Linked DNA regions of Homo sapiens. The protein of the gene in region 1 interacts with the protein of each later gene in a pairwise test. Each region holds a gene or a part of one and is shown in the gene's direction. Other genes may lie near its edges.

The links.
Region 2: the proteins of LMNA (region 1) and ZNF649 interact in binary tests that used the Homo sapiens proteins (3 or more experiments, as listed by UniProt).
Region 3: the proteins of LMNA (region 1) and NEBL interact in binary tests that used the Homo sapiens proteins (3 or more experiments, as listed by UniProt).

The regions. Positions count from the first base shown.
Region 1 is NC_000001.11:156,124,711-156,131,710, forward strand, and holds part of LMNA (lamin), read left to right. Parts: intron 1-1,459; exon of another isoform or gene 1,460-1,493; coding exon of another isoform or gene 1,494-1,513; intron 1,514-1,844; exon of another isoform or gene 1,845-1,941; intron 1,942-2,025; exon of another isoform or gene 2,026-2,092; coding exon of another isoform or gene 2,093-2,205; exon of another isoform or gene 2,206-2,239; intron 2,240-5,116; exon of another isoform or gene 5,117-5,139; coding exon of another isoform or gene 5,140-5,198; intron 5,199-5,906; coding exon 5,907-6,063; intron 6,064-7,000.
Region 2 is NC_000019.10:51,895,018-51,902,068, reverse strand, and holds part of ZNF649 (zinc finger protein 649), read left to right. Parts: intron 1-1,604; exon of another isoform or gene 1,605-1,774; 5' UTR 1,775-1,961; coding exon 1,962-1,976; exon of another isoform or gene 1,977-2,268; coding exon of another isoform or gene 2,269-2,271; intron 2,272-5,090; coding exon 5,091-5,217; intron 5,218-5,501; coding exon 5,502-5,597; intron 5,598-5,772; exon of another isoform or gene 5,773-5,908; intron 5,909-7,051. UniProt on the Homo sapiens protein: Transcriptional repressor. Regulator of transcriptional factor complexes and may suppress SRE and AP-1 transcription activities mediated by growth factor signaling pathways.
Region 3 is NC_000010.11:20,779,473-20,782,362, reverse strand, and holds the end of NEBL (nebulette), read left to right. Parts: 3' UTR 1-2,390; downstream 2,391-2,890. UniProt on the Homo sapiens protein: Binds to actin and plays an important role in the assembly of the Z-disk. May functionally link sarcomeric actin to the desmin intermediate filaments in the heart muscle sarcomeres.

The DNA.
Region 1 (7,000 bases):
AGCAGTGGTTACTTTGCCGGGTTGGGGGGGAGGTAGGGGCTATCAAACCTCATGATTGGCCGCACACAAAGGTGTGAGTATGTGTATATTTGAGGGTGGGTGGGAGTGGCACTTTCACTAGGCCTCCGTATCACTCTCTGACTGGGGTATCTCCCAGCAAGCGAGACAGAGGCAGACACGCTTCCCAGACTGTCTTACTGGGTCTCTCTGTGTTATTCTCTGCAGTGTCTGTGTGTATCGTGCCATTTTCTATGTTTTGCACCAATCTGCTGTGAGTGTCCTCAGGTGACCTGGGGGCAGGTTTTTAGTGCCTGAGCCTACCCGTCTCCAGGCTTTAGTTTCCCCCTGTAAAAGTATAGGAGTTGGTTCAAGAGAAGGTTCCTCTAGAAGCCTTGAGCCTGTGAACCGTCTAGTCTCCGGGTATTTGTGGGACACACAGAAAAAGCCCCACGACCCAACAGGTAGAACACTGGCTGAAATCAGCAGGGCAGAGCTGAGACAGGCTCAAGTAGGCTGAGGGGTAGGGAGGTTTTGGGTGAATGGGAGGGAGGGACAGAGAGAAGGAGGATATATTGCAGTAGGAGGAGTTGCTGGAACAAAAGGAGGGGTGGTAGGAGTGGCTTGGGGTGGCAGCAGAAGACGCCCTGTCACATGGCGGGAAGTCAGCCTGGGCAGAGGTCTAGGTGTCCAGGAGGGGCTGGGTGTGGTGGCTCACGCCTGTAATCCCAGGACTTTGGGAGGCTGATGCAGGAGGATCACGTGAGGTCAGGAGTTCAAGACCAGCCTGGCCAACATGGCGAAACCCTATCTCTACTAAAAATGCCAAAAATTAGCTGGGTGTGGTGGCAGGCGCCTGTAATCCCAGCTACTCTGGAGGCTGAGGCACAAGAATTGCTTGAACCTGGGAGGTGGAGGTTGCAGGGAGCCGAGATCGCGCCACTCTACTCTAGCCTGGGCAACACAGTGAGACTCTGTCTCAAAAATAATAATAATAGGGGCTGGGCGCGGTGGCTCATGACTGTAATCCCAGCATTTTGGGAGGTGGAGGCGGGTGGATCACCTGAGGTCAGGAGTCCGAGACCAGCCTGGCCAACATGGCAAAACTCCGTCTCTACTAAAAATAGAAAAATTAGCTAGGCATGGTGGTGCAGGCCTGTAATCCAGCTACTCGGGAGGCTGAGAAGCAGGAGAATCACTTGAACCTGGGAGGTGAAGGTTGCAGTGAGATCACCTGGGCGACAGAATGAGACTCCACCTCAAAATAATAATAATAGTAATAATAATAAATGAAAAATTTTAAAATTAAACAATTAAAAATTTTAAATTAAAATTAAACAAATTAGATGCCCAGGAGGATACAGGAGAGCATTTGCCACCAGGCGGACTCCCTGTACCCACCCGGCCACAGGGGGCGATGTTCCTGGGAGACAGGAAATGCCCAGGGGCTGGGAGACCCTCTGCTCTTCTGCTCCCTTCCTGTGTGCTGCCTGGCAATGGGGAACTCTGAGGGCTGGTGAGCAGGGCTGCTGAGGAGTGGGTCTAAGGAGTCCCTGCAGGGCTGGGCCAGCTCCTCCACCTCCCCTTTGTCTTCCCCTCCCACTTGTTATTTTTAGCTACAGTGTCTGTCCCTCTTGCTTCTCCCCCAGATTGGGAGAGGAAACGGAGGCCTCTCCCTCCGGGCCTAGCCTGTTGCCCCCAGCAACCGGGCCCAAACAGGCCTGTGGCCGGCCCTGGCTTCCATATCTGGCATCAGAGTTGGGCTGAGCAGGGTGACTCAGAGGGTGGGTCAGCGCCTGGCCCGGTGCCCACCTAGCCCCTTTGCTGTGCTGGTGCCTTTCTTCCCCAAACAGCCCCAAGGGCCCGGGCCTGCTGCAGCTGGGGAGCCGGACTTCCTTGTCCCACCAGGCACAGCTCTTCAGACCCCTGCCTTGGGTCACATTTGCAAGTGCCAACTCTCATTTCTACCTTATTCTTTTCCTCTCTGTTCCCCTCCCCACCCCCTCTCTTCCCTCTTTCTGAGATCAGATTTGCCAGTGATGGGAAGAGTTAGAAACAGGATGCCCAGCCCTTCTCGCCTCAAGAGGCCACTGGGATGCAGCCACTCCTGTGCTTGGGGAACCTGGAGGATGCAAGGGAAAGGACTGGCACTCTGCTGGCACAGCACCCGGCCTGGGGCAGGACACGGGCGAAGCCAGGGTCTCCCCTGTGAGCACTAGAGGATTTCCCGACCCCTGCCCGGGTATTGTGTGCCTGAGCATGAGTCACCTGAGGGGCCCAGGTTCCCACCCTTCCCAGCTCCTCTGGCCTGCCCCACCCTGTCCTCCCTGCCAACCCAGCACGGGGACGGCACTCAGCGTGTGCTCAGCTTTCCTGATGCCAACCCCCAGTGGAGTGGGCTGCACCACCACCCTGGGACCGAATGCCTGGCTAGGGTCTACTTTGGTCCCTGCTAGGTCTGAGGACCCCTCCTAGGAAGGAAATGGCACTTGGGGGCGGGGGCAGGGAGGAGGGAGGAGAGACACTGGGCTCTACTGTACCCCTAGTCATCTCTTGGGGTGTGCGTGTGGCTCCCTGGCCACAGAGCTCCCAAGGTCTGAGTCATGAGCCCATGGGTGATAGTGGCTTCTTCCCCGCAGATGGGAGCTCCCCGTGCCTAAGAAAACCACAAAGGTTCTTCCTCACTTCCCTCTCTGCTCGTGGTTTTTCTCATCTGCAGGGTGTGTCTTAGTCCTTTAATCTCCTCTCTTTGCAGTGCTAGTCAAAACCTCCACCAGGGAAAGACAAATAACCCCCTTACTGTTTTTTTTTTTTTTTTTTTTTTTTTTTGAGATGGAGTCTCGCTCTGTCACCCATGCTGTAGTGCAGTGGCACAATCTCGGCTCACTGCAACCTCCGCCTCCCAAGTTCAAGTGATCCTCCTACCTCAGCCTCCTCAGTAGCTGGGACTACAGGTGCACACCACCGTACCCAGCTAAATTTTTTTTTTTTTTTTTTGAGATAGAGTCTCACTCTGTCACCCAGGCTGGAGTACAGTGGTACAATCTCAACTCACTACAATCTCCGCCTCCCAGGCTCAAGCAATTCTCGTGTCTCAGCCTCCCAAGTTGCTGGGACTATGGACGTGCACCACCTTGCCCGACTAATTTTTGTATTTTTGATAGAGTCAGAGTTTCACCATGTTGGCAGGCTGGTCTCGAACTCCTGGCCTCAAGTGATCCACCTGCCTTGGCCTCCCAAAGTGCTGGGATTACAGGTGTGAGCCACCACACTCAGCCAGCCCCCTTACTTTCCTTGGAGACCATATACTGTGGCTTGTGCCAAAGTGGTACAGCATGGATTTCCAGCTCCCCTATCTACTTGCTGCGGGACCCTAGATATAGCTTTCTGTGCCTATTTCCTCAATTGCATAGGAATAGCACCTATCGCATAGGGTAGCTGTGAAGATGACGTGAGTTAACATAATATTTAGAGCAGTGCTTGGTACCTAATAAGCTCTATATAAGTGTTTGCTATTATATTATTATTATCACTGCCACCACCGCTTTTGCAAGCAGCAGAAGGTGAAGAGGTTAGACTGAAGAAAAAACTTCTGTGCTCATCAGCCCATAAGCTCGCAGAGCACAGGGATCATGCATCTATGTTTTCCTCAGTCAGTGTCTGCCAGGCACTGGCAAGGAAAGGCTGTTACCAGGGGGAACTCCAGGAATTCCTCCTGGCACCTAAGGAGGCTGGGGAGACAGGACTAGGGAAAAGGTGCCCTTGAGACACCTTCTGAAATCATCCCATTGCCTTCCAGCTTCTTTCAGCTCAGGCTGGCTGGTCAGGGAAACGCTTTGTGCCATAGTGTCTGCCCTCTTCCTCCTCCTGGCTTCTCCATTCTCTCTGGAACTTGTGGCTTAGGAAAGCAGTGAGGTGGAGGAGGAGGAACCCTAGATCAGCAGCTAGAATTGACTGGAATGCTGCTGCTGGCTTTCGGTAATTGACACTGGGCCATTCACCTTCCTCCTTTGCACCTCAGTTTCCTCATCTATAAAAGGGAGAGGGTTGAGCTGAATCAACTCTAAGCTCCTTCTAGTTCTCTAAATTCTGAGAGCCTCCTAGTACAGCCAGCAGCAGCCATTAGCCTTCAGGGTAGAGAGGCCTCTTCTGGGAAGCCCCAGCCAGCCTGGGGGTCAGCCCAAGGAGCTCGGAATCTAAGTTGCCCCAGTTGCTTCACTTTACCAGCGGTTTTTCTTCATTTTCCCTCCTCCCCCTGCAGCTGCTTCAGCTTCGGAAAAGTTCTGAAGTCATGGAAAGTTGGGGCTGTGCTCCCAGCCAGGGGCTAGGCCGGATGGCAGCCAAAACCTGAGCTGGGTTTTGACTTTATTTTTAGCTTTTCTGACTGAGACAGAGGAGGGAATACATTCTCCGGTTCTGGAAGGGGCTCTTTTTTGCAGGAGACAGACACTTACATTAAACAACTTGTTCTGAGGTGTGGCCAGAGGCCTGGACTGAGCAAGTGTGCAGGCTGGGGGAGCTTCCTCTGGCTTCTCATGTCCTTCCCCTGCCCCTCTGAGTGTCACTCTATCCTCCTCCCTGCCTGGTGGGGGGAGGTGGGGGTGACTCCTTTTTTGGACTCTCCTAAGCAGAACACTGCCTGGGTCTCGTCCTCCAGAGCTTCTGCAAATCTAGCCTTCCCTATCCCTCTTCACAGTGAATTGCTGGGCCTCTTGGAGTTTAGGACTTTTGTGGTAGAAGAAAAATGTTGGCAGGGCTGCTTTTCTCCTTTCCAGGATAGATTTTTCCTTCTGCCCACGCTTGGTTTTCCTTTTTTCCATCTGCTGTGGTGGGCTCATGCTTAAGCACTGATGAGTTACAGATGGCAGCTGGAACCAGGTCCTCTGGATCTTTCCCTCCGCTCCCTGGGTCTGCTGCTTTCTCTCACCCTATATTTGTGAAGCAATTGTAACATCTAGAAAGTTCTTGGGTTCTCTGGAGGTTTTTAAGAAAATAGGACCTTTCTATTTCTCCAGTCCACTAGCAAAAATAATCAGGGGCCCAGAAAAGGTGAGGGAGGTGGCAGAGGCAGCGCTGTTCGACTGGTTATAGCTAAAGCTTTACCCACTTTGAGGAGCAGGGAGGCTTAAAGCTGGGGCCCAGATGGACCTGGAGGCCTGGGATCCACATCTGGAACCAGATGCTGAGGCTATGGTAGATGGGTAGGGCTCAGCCTTCTCCCAGGGCACGGATGAGGCAGGAGGGAGGGAGGCAGGGACCCCTCTGTTCAGTGCAGATCAGGGCACCCAGACTGGGTCCTGAGAAAGGAAAGGGTCAATATTGTGCCTGGTCATCCTTGTCTGAGGTCCCTCTGAGCTCTAACCAGACTTTCCTTCCCCACAGTCCCACATGTGTAAAAGGGACTAGGAGAGGTGACCAGTACCTTTGGGGCTCAGATCGAGAAGTGCTAGGGACATGTGGGCCATGAGCTTAGTTGTCAGGCTCCTCAGAGGGAGGGAAGCTTGGCCAAAGGGAAGTGAGTAGAGTCCAGGGAGAAGGCTAAGTAAGGCCCTGTGTGGGAAGGGGCAGGAGACAAAGGTACCCCTGTCTCTTTGGGAAAGAATGGGAGGAGAGAGAGGGAAAAGCATTCATATCACGGGGTAGAGCTCTGCCCTTGGCCCCAGGCACGTTCCTGAGCCCTGAGTCATGGGAAGGGTGGAGAAGCAGGAAGGGGGTTTTCAAGGACCTTGGGGAGGTGGGAGCCCAGCCCCAGAGGCAAGCAGATGCAAACCAACCTAATGCAAGGATGCCCTCTCCTGGTAATTGCAGGCATAGCAGCGCCAGCCCCCATGGCTGACCTCCTGGGAGCCTGGCACTGTCTAGGCACACAGACTCCTTCTCTTAAATCTACTCTCCCCTCTCTTCTTTAGCAATACCAAGAAGGAGGGTGACCTGATAGCTGCTCAGGCTCGGCTGAAGGACCTGGAGGCTCTGCTGAACTCCAAGGAGGCCGCACTGAGCACTGCTCTCAGTGAGAAGCGCACGCTGGAGGGCGAGCTGCATGATCTGCGGGGCCAGGTGGCCAAGGTGAGGCCACCCTGCAGGGCCCACCCATGGCCCCACCTAACACATGTACACTCACTCTTCTACCTAGGCCCTCCCCCATGTGGTGCCTGGTCTGACCTGTCACCTGATTTCAGAGCCATTCACCTGTCCTAGAGTCATTTTACCCACTGAGGTCACATCTTATCCTAATTTGGCTGCCAATGGGATCTACCACAGTGAATTTAAAATAATCCAGGAGGCCGGGCATGGTGGTTCACGCCTGTAATCCCAGCACTTTAGGAGGCCGAGGTGGGCCGATCACGAGGTCAGGAGATCGAGATCATCCTGACTAACATGGTGAAACCCCGTCTCTACTAAAAATACAAAAAATTAGCCTGGCATGGTGGCGGGCGCCTGTAGTCCCAACTACTCGGGAGGCTGAGGCAGGAGAATGGCGTGAGCCTGCGAGGCAGAGCTTGCAGTGAGCTGAGATCATGCCACTGCACTCCAGCCTGGGCAACAGAGTGAGACTCCGTCTCAAAAAAATAATAATAATAATAATAAAAATAATCCAGGCCATGTGTGGTGGCTCATGCCTGTAATCCCAGCATTTTGGGAGGCCAAGGAGGCAGGATTGCTTGAGTCCAGGAGTTTGAGACCAGCCTGGGCAACACAGACCCCATCTCTAGAAAATAAAAATTTAAAGAAATTAGCTGGGCATGGTGGTGTGCACCTATAGTCCCAGCTACTTGGGAGGCTGAGGCAGGAGGATGGCTTGAACCTGAGAGGTCGAGGATACAGTGAGCTGTGATTGCACCACTGCACTTCAGCCTGGGTGACAGAGGGAAACCCTGTCTCTACATAAATAAATACATAAAATAAAATAATCCACAAGCCATTTCTACTTAACTTTGCAATGAACTGTACCTGACCCTAGATCCCTCCCAGTTTGGCCCTCCGGTATACAAGGGCCTCCTAT
Region 2 (7,051 bases), on another chromosome or scaffold:
TGCGGTGCCCTCACATGGCAGAAGGCAGAAGAGCAGAAAGGGCCGATCTGTGTGTGAAGCCTCTTTTATTTTTATTATTATTTCTTCTTTCTTTAGGTTTTTTTTTTTTTTTTTTTTTGATACAGAGTCTCACTTTGTCACCCAGCCTGCAGTGCAGTGGCACCATCCTAACTCACTGCAGTCTCAACCTCTCAACCTCCCAGGCTCAAGCAGTCCTCCTGCCGCAGCCATCTGAGTAGCTGGGAATACAGGCATGTGCCACCATGCTTGAATAATTTTTGTATGTTTTATAGAGATGGGGTTTCACCATGTTGCCAAGTCCTGAGCTCAAGTGATCTGCCCACCTTGGCCTCCCAAAGTACTGGGATTACAGGTGTGAGCCAACACGCTCGGCCTTTATTTTTTTTTATTTTTTTATTTTTAAGAGACAGGGTCTTGCTCTGTTGCCCAGGCTAGAGTGCAGTGGTGCAATCACAACTCACTGCAGCCTCAAACTCCTGGCCTCAAGCGATCCTCCCACCTCAGCCTCCCAAAGTGCTGGGATTACATGCATGAGCCACTGTGCCTGGCCAAAGCCTCTTTTATAAGGGCCTTAATGCCACTCACAAGGGAGGAGCCCTCATGACCTAATCACTTACTAAAAGCCCACCTCTTGATACCATTGCATTGGAGATTAAGTTTCAACATGAATTTTGGAGGACACAAACATTCAAACCATAGCAGCTGGCATTTGGGAGCTTAGATTTTTGGAGGCAGTCCCACTATTTCCTAATAAGAGTGGCTCACTGTGCCTAAGCTGTTTTTTTCAAACAATGTGATTTATCCTGAACACATGCTTTCCTCTAGGATTCTGGAGTTTTGGTGAATGTTAGGCAGTGAGCACCTTCACGATCAGCCCCCAATAAAAACCATGGCACACAATCTCTCTCTAATAAACTTCCTTGGTCTATAGCATTTCACGTGTGTTGTCATGACTTGTGGCTCGGGGAATTAAGTGTATCCTGTGTGACTCCAAAGAGACTGAACTTGAAACTTATGTCTGGTTTCCTCCAGACTTTGCCACATGTACCTTTTACCTTTGCTGGTTTTGCTGTGTATGTTTTCACAGTAATAAGTGGTTGCCATGAATATAATTATAGACTGAGTGTTGTGAGTTCACCTAGTGAATCACTGCATCTGGGAGTGGTCTTGAGGGGCTCCGGCACAGCTGCCCACATTCATTCACCTGTCTCCCCTTTTCTAACAGACTCTCAGGTGTCCTTGGCTTGTGGCAGCATCACTCCAGTCTCTGCCTCCATCTTCACATGGCCTTCTCTTTTACCTGTGTGTTTCTTCTCTGTGTGTCTCACGATTGTTGGGAAAAAGGCTTATGGGGTGCTGGCATAAACTGGCCATAAAAATATGGGACAATAAGTTTTGGAAAATCACAGGAGGCCTCTGAGGAGGAAAGCCTCCTTATTACCATCACGTTCTCATGACCAGAGCGTGACCTGCTCTCTTATTTATAAACACTGTGCTTAAGGAGAAAGACACTCCTTTGAAGCATTGGAAAGTGGCCAGATATGCCGGCTCCTGGTTAAGCCCACTGCCATATGACTCCCCACATTCAGAGTGTTGTTTTATTGCCCTGGGATGTAAAGACTTGGGGACACCTGACAAAGGGATGCTTAGATATATTGCTTGGCCTTGACTGCAGGAGAGTTTACAGCAGCAGAGACAGCATCTGGGCCCGGAGGGAATGTGTCACCAAATGAACTTGATTTTTACTCCATAGGTCCTGGCTCCCCAGAAGCAAGAGAGTTCAAATGAAGGAAGGAGGAGGTTCCTGGATGTGGATGTCATCATTTCTGGGAACACTCTTAAATGGAGACTCAGATTTCTTAGCCAAAATTTAGGGAGGATCCAGAAGAAACCAAAGACGAAGCATCCCAGTTCTTGGGTATTTCCTGAAACAGAAGAAAATGACAAAGGCCCAGGTAACTTTTGGTTTGTTTTATTCTTAACTCGATTCCCTGATGGATTTGTGGAAGTCTGAAGAAATCAGTTCATTTACATTAAAAGTATAAATTGGAAAAAATGAGCTCTGGGGAGAAACAGACTTAGACTGTACCTTTAATCCAGGACAAAGTGGGATCACAAATACTTTGTTCACATAGTTCACATGTGACCAGTGTTGGAATATAATGTGCGACTCTGCCAGACCCTGTTGGCTACATTAAGTGTCAGCTTGTGTCCAAAATCTTTGGCCACCATCACACCCAGAGAATCATGGTAAGTTACATGATGTGCACTGATTCTGAGGAGAAAGCGGGTCCGTTCCTCAGGGGATGTCAGTATTTCATGGCACTTAAATCTTGGGAAATTAGTTTGATGCTTTTTGCTAGAGGTGACAAGATAGACTTTTTGTCCTTAACAGCATTTTTCCAAAAGATACACAAGCAAGTTTTGTGTGACTGTTTCTACATGATTATTCTGAGTCCTCTATGGGACTATACCAAGAAGGGTTTAATGAACACAGTTTTTCCAGAGCTCACAGCACTGCGGCCTATATACCCAACCTTGTTGCAGTCTGTGTTTATCTGTGAGTAAACCTAATTGCCTAAAAAATGCAAGGTTTGCTTTCAAAGGAGCTCCATGAACAGGTCACTAAACTGGTGTTTAAGTACAGATTTGACCAAAGGGAGTTGAAAGTTCTCTTTGGCAATGGCTTGGGTTGTTGAGATCCACAGGGTTTGCTTTAGAATGTCATGTTGTCTCAGAAAATACAGAGCCCTTCCCTGTGTTCAAATCCAGTTATTAACCTCTCACCTCTTTTAATGCCTTAACTTAAAAAATTATGCAAATGACTCATTATGGTTTTACACGTATATATATTTGGTCTCTGTCTCTGGTTCTTGGCACAGAGCTCCTAAAACCTTTGGAATTTCCTGAGTGATAGGAGTGTATTTTGTTCTTCATAACCAGTGCCTTTCAACCACACCTGAGTTTATGGTAATGAGGTGGCTCAGAATGGGCTCCTAGACAACCTCAGGATGGGGCTGGTTGCCAGAAAGACCAAGCCTTGATTACAGAGTTGGGACTTTCAGTCCCACCCCCGACCTCCAGATTCTGTGACCAATGGTTGATGATTTCTTTTTTTTATTTTTTATTTTTTAATGAGATGGAGTCTTGCTCTGTTGCCAGGCTGGAGTGCAGTGGTGCAACCTCGGCTCACTGCATCCTCCACCTTCTGGGTTCAAGCAATTCTCCTGCCTCAGCCTCCTGAGTAGCTGGAACCACAGGTACAAACCACCACACCCAGCTAATTTTTTTTTTTTTTTAGTAGAGACAGGGTTTCAATATCTTGGCCAGGATGGTCTCGATCTCTTGACCTCATGATCTGCCCACCTCGGCCTCCCAAAGTGTTGGGATTACAGGTGTGAGCCACCGCACCCAGCCATGGTTGATGATTTAATCATGCCCACGTCGTAGAAGCTCCATAAAAACCCCCATGGGGTTTGGAGATCACATGTGGAAGTGGGGGGTGGGGGAAGGGGGCACTGCAATTCCATGGGATCAGAGGCTCCTGTGCTTGGCACCCTTTGGACCTTGACTTCTGTACCTCTTTACCTGGCTGTCATTTGTATCCTATATAATAAACTGTAATTGTGTGACATTTTCCTGAGTTCTGTGAGTCATTCTAGCAAATTATCGAACCTGAGCAGGGAGGTTGTGGCAACCTCCAGTTGTGGTCAAGTTGGACAGAAGTGTGATAACGTGGGGACCCCAGAGTGGCACATGATGTGAGGGCAGTCTTGTGGGACCGAGCCCTGAAACCTGCAGAGTCTGATGATAACCCTCAGCGGTTAGTGTTAGCATAGCATCGAACTCTAGGATACCCAGTTGGCATCAGAGAAAGTGTTGCTGGAAAAGACACTGTGTATTTGGTGTCAGAAAGAACCACAGATTCATAGTTTTTTTTTTTTTTTTTTTTGAGACAGTCTTACTTTGTTGCCCAGGCTGGAGTGCAGTGGCGTGATCTTCGCTCACTGCAACCTCTGCATCCTGGGTTCAAGCGATTCTCATGCTTCATCTAGGTGCCACCATGCCCACCTAATTTTTGTATTTTTAGTAGAGACCATGTTTAGCCATGTTAGCCAGGCTGGTCTCAAACTCCTGACCTCGGGTGATCCGCCCACCTTTGCCTCCCAAAGTGCTGGGTTTACAGGCGTGAGACATCATGCCCGGCCTCATGGATAGATTTTCAATGTGAAAGACTCAAGTTAAATAGTACACATAGTGTGAAAACAAAGTTCCCCCTCTGTATACTTTTTTTCCTAATTCCCTAGTATGTCACTAACAAATGCTTGTCTTCCTGTTCTAGGGATTTACCTGTGAGGACATCTATGTCTGCATGCGTGTGTATGTGTGTGTATACATGCGTTGTATACATATACATGTATCTATGCATGTCAATGCTTACATGTATGATGGCTTATTTTTTATGGCCACTGCATAGTTTATTTGTTGTTTTGCTAAATATCATGGTATAGTTTACATGAAGGGGGTCATGCTAGATTATTCTGCACGTACTATATGACTGTAGCATATAGTTTAGGGTTGCAAGTAGGTGCTGAAAAACACTGCAGACATTCTCATGTTAGCAAGAGGATTTAATGGCTGCATATTACAGAAACTTATGATTTGTTGGATTAATGGATGGCTGCATGGTTATTATAAAATATAGAATATTTTACTATGACTTTGCTTCTTTCACAGTATATTTAAAAAACTAGGAATACAGTTTATTTGTGAACATGAATTTGTACTGCAAGGGTCCACTTATATCCAAACTTGAATCAAAAATATAGTATTCTCAGGATGTGAAACTCGCTTATACAGAGTAACATAAGCAGATTCCACTAGGCCAACTGTAGGTCATGAGTATGCACAATTTCGGTATATGTGGGGCATCCTGAAACCATTCCATTGAGTATACCAAGGGACAACTGTGCAGGTGCAGCTTATGTGGTGAAAATGGGCCGAACAACTTCATATTTCTTCCATGTCAATAAAAGAGAAACATATTAAGCAGGACTGTGTTATTACAGGAATCACTGACCCTGGAGGATGTGGCTGTGGACTTCACCTGGGAGGAGTGGCAGTTCCTGAGCCCTGCTCAGAAGGACCTGTACCGGGATGTGATGTTGGAGAACTACAGCAACCTTGTGTCAGTGGGTGAGGACAGCTGCCCTGTGTCACTCAGAGGGTACCCAGTCAGTGGCCTTTGCTTTCTCAGCTTCTGGAAGCTTTGGTATGTCTGCTGTGCTCCCAAATGGCAGATCCTCAGGCCCGTCTCTGGTCCCACAGGAAGAGGCATAATCTTCCTTCGTCTTAGAAAAAAAGCCTTTAATTTGCTAACATGCAAATTATGCAGTCCCTAACATGTACCTTTCTCCTATCATCAGAGCCACGTGGTGCAATTCAGTGAGCCTAAGTCTTCTCCCATTTCCCACAAACAGGGTATCAAGCCGGCAAACCTGATGCCCTCACCAAGTTGGAACAAGGAGAACCACTATGGACACTAGAAGATGAAATCCACAGTCCAGCCCACCCAGGTAAGTGAGAGAGAACCAGCAAGAGGGGAAGGCAGCGGAAGTCACATTCTGGTCATTTAGAGAAGGCATGACAGTTGTGAAAGTGTCTAGGGAGACAGAAACAGCTGCCACATCTTCTTCTCCCCTAGGATACAAGAGCTCTTTTTCTTATAGGAATTCAGAGAAGCATACATACCCCTTTATCTCTTCTTGGAACTGATCCCTATTCATTTCTTCTTAGATGTTGAGTTGCTTCCCCTAAGTTCTTCTTGCTTGGATTTTCACATCTTCCCATTCTTCTTCATCACTTGTCAGAGGATCATTTTGTGTTTCTGAGGCAAAAACGACAAACTGTTTTTTTCTCTGTCACATAGTCACTCAACACAGCATTTATGCCACTGGATATATAGGGGTTGTTTTCTCACAGCCCAGGCAATTCTCCAGCAGACATCAGCTGGGTATCGTCTGTTTCAAATCAGCTCTGACCCTATCTACCTGATACGGCATCAGATCCCACCGGTTAAGGGCTCAGTCCAAGACTGTGTCCCACTTCAGATGCCAGTGGCAAGTCCCAGGTTGTCACCTCAGCTTCTGACCAACCAGCTGTAAAGTAGGGGTTCCCAAGACCCTCTCCTCAAGTTTGATTAATTTGCTAGAACAGCATTTATATGTATATGCGTGTGTGTATATATGTGTATGTGTGTGTGTATGTGTGTATATACATTTATATATATACTTTATATATTTATATGTATATATACATTTATATAAGAGAGAGAGGGAGAAAGAGTGCCATAAGCATTGTCTAGAGTTACTGATTCATCAAGTGAGATAAGAACTGAGGCATAGGAGGCCGGGCATGGTGGCTCACACCTGTAATCCCAGCACTTTGGGAGGCTGAGGCGGGCGGATCACAAAGTCAGGAGTTTGAGACCAGCTTTGCCAACATGGTGAAACCCCATCTCTACTAAAAATACAAAAATTAGCCGGGCGTGGTGACATGTGCCTGTAGTCCCAGCTACTCAGGAGGCTGAGGCAGGAGAATTACTTGAACCCAGGAGGCAGAGGTTGCAGTGAGCTGAGATCGCGCCATTTCACTCCAGCCTGGGTGACAGAGTGAGACTCTGTTTCAAAAAACAAAAAGAAACGAAAAACAAAAAAACAAAAAAACTGAGGCATCGGTATGTGATTATGGTTTGTTTTTCACATTCTGACACTATGTATTTTTCACCTTGAATTTTCTTTTCATGAAATGGTTTTTAATACACTACAATATAATAATATCTTCCATGTCTAAATTCCCATTCTACTTTGCATCCCAATCACACACAAGCCACTCCCATAGATACCACATCAGTGTGATTTGGTGGTGCTTGAGGTTCCTTTGCTACTCTGGAGTCAAGGGCCTGGTTTTCATTCTTCTTCATGTAAGATTGAAATACATCTTGGTCATTCATGCATTTCTTCATCGAAGG
Region 3 (2,890 bases), on another chromosome or scaffold:
ACACATCCCTATAGAAAGTGGATAAAAGATATACCAAAACTGTAATACAGATATATACAAATATAGGTGCCTTTTTGATTACTCTTGTTTGTCTAGTATGCTCTTGGAAAGAAAACCAAGCAAGCAAGTTGCTGCCTATTCTATAGTAATATTTTATTACACATGATTGATATTTTTGTGGTAGGGAAGTGGGATGCTCCTCAGATATTAAAGGTGTTAGCTGATTGTATTTTATCTCTAAAGATTTAGAACTTTAGAAAATGCCGACTTCTTCCATCTATTTCTGAAAGGTTCTTTGTGGATTTATATAGAGTTGAGCTATATAAACATTAACTTTAGATTTGGGATTTAAAATGCCTATTGTAAGATAGAATAATTGTGAGGCTGGATTCACTACACAAGATGAACTTCACTTCATAAATTAATTATACCTTAGCGATTTGCTTCTGATAATCTAAAAGTGGCTAGATTGTGGTTGTTTTGGTTAAGGTGATATGGAGGTGGGAGAGCTTTTAGTTAAGTAAGAAGCTATGTAAACTGACAAGGATGCTAAAATAAAAGTCTCTGAAGTATTCCATGCCTTTTGGACCCTTTCCTCGCAACTAACTGTCAACTGTTGATCAAAAAAGTCAAGGCATTGTATGTTGCTTCTGTGGTTATTATTCTGTGATGCTTAGACTACTTGAACCCATAAACTTGGAAGAATCTTTGAGCAAATTTTCTCAGTTGTCTGTATGACTTCAGTATATTCCTGGGAATGCCATAGGATTTTTTGTGCTTGATACATGGTATCCAGTTTGCATAGTATCACTTCTTTGTAATCCAGTTGCTGTTAAGAATGATGTACTTTAAAGGAAAAGAGAAAACTGCATCACAGTCCCATTCTCCAGTGTCCATGCAATGAATTGCTGAGCATTTAGGAAGCAGCACCAAGTCTATTACAGGCATGGTGTGAAACTTGATGTTTGACCTGTGATCAAAATTGAACCATTGTACAGTTTGGCTTCTGTTTGCTTCAAAATATGTAGAATTGTGGTTGATGATTAATTTGCGAGACTAACTTTGAGAGTGTAACAGTTTTGAAGAAAACATTGAATGTTTTGCAAATGAAGGGGCTTCACGGAATGTTACAATGTTACTAATATAATTTGGCTTTTGTTATGCAAATTGTTAACACCAGCTATTAAAATATATTTTAGTAGAAATGCTTTAATTCATATTTTTTTCCTCTACACTGTGAATCTTTAAGCCTTGGTGGACTAGAGCAACATCGTGCTGCCCAAAGGACTAACCTATGCAAACTAGTTCACATTTTAGTGGATGTCGCAGTTAATGTGTAATAAGACATTATTTCCCCTGCATAATGTACAACAGCATTGAAATGACACATTAAGCCTAGCATCACATTGTATAGTACAGTCACTCACAAACCCTTCAAGGCTACCCTAATCATTAACATTAATATTTGTTTAAAAGCAAATCACCGATTTATCTATTGAAACTACTTAAATGACGGCAAACCAGGAATGACAGATGGCTGTGTCAGCAATGGCTTTAATGTGTTCCCTGCAAGTGGTCTCCTATGATAGAACTGCGTTCTCAAATGCACTCTCTTCAGGGTCTTAATATTCTGTGTTTTCTCTCTGTATTTGTAAAACATTATAACACATTAATTTCCTATCTCTACACATTTGGTTTGCTTAAATAAATGCAGGATATAAAAAAAATGGTTCACTTCTTGGCTCTCACCGTGGTTTCTTGGAGCATGGGTTGTTAGATGCAAGCAATGCACCCTAATAATACCCCGGGTCTGAGATTTAACATGACAACTCACATCAAATCGCATCAGAGGTGTGTGCTGCCTTCAGTGCATTTACATTGGTGAATCAGTCAAGATATTTTCCTCCCCCAAATAAACTTAGTTGTAAGTGATAACAATATTATGCTTCTCCAAGCTCAGTATCTTTCTGATTTTATATCAAAGTACCGCAACAATGCATCATTGTAGTTAATTTATTTCAAGAATAAATTCCTCATATGTCCTCAATAGTACAATTCTAATTTTCTTCTATTCATAAGATGAAAGAAATGGTTTGGAGCATAGAATAGAAAGTGCACAAATTGAGTACATAAAATGGGAAGCAACTGATTTCTCAGCTAAGAAAGGCTCATTTATCACAGAACACAATTGCTTTTCTCCCCCCACTACGCTTCCCATAATTGAAAAAGTGAGTCCCTATTTTTCACACTCATATAAATCTATGCGATTTGGATGCTAGTCTTATTGTATTATTTTGTAAAACTTTCTCTTTGGCTCATAATCCTTCCTAATTGTAAATTGATAAACTTTGCGGATGACATCTGCTCGTAGAATAAACACTTCTTCCAAATATTGGATTTTCTGTTTTTCATATTCCGTAAGTATGAAATGAATATTTTAATAGTATTATGAATCAAGCACACTGTATTTGAAATCACAAGACAGCACAGTTATTTATTTGAAGAATTCACTACCTTTTTTCCCTCTGAGACTTTTTTTTTTTCCATTCGATTATAAATTTACTCTTTGTAACCCAGGCCACAGAGGAAATGAATACCTTAGATTTTTTTTTTTCTGACAAAAAATAATTTAGCTTTTAAACAGACTGTGCTTATAATTTTATTTTCTTAAACATTTGTGAGGTTTTACGGGTAACTATGACATGCGCACCAAACAACTTTTCTACCAAAATAAGTTTCTACAAAAATATATAATAAACTAAAAAGTAGGTAAAAGGGGATTTTTTTTTTTCTTCATATAATCTGCTTTGATATGGTTTGGCTGTGTTCCCACCCAAAATCTCATCTTGAATTGTAATCCCTATAATCTCCATAATCCACACGTGTCAAA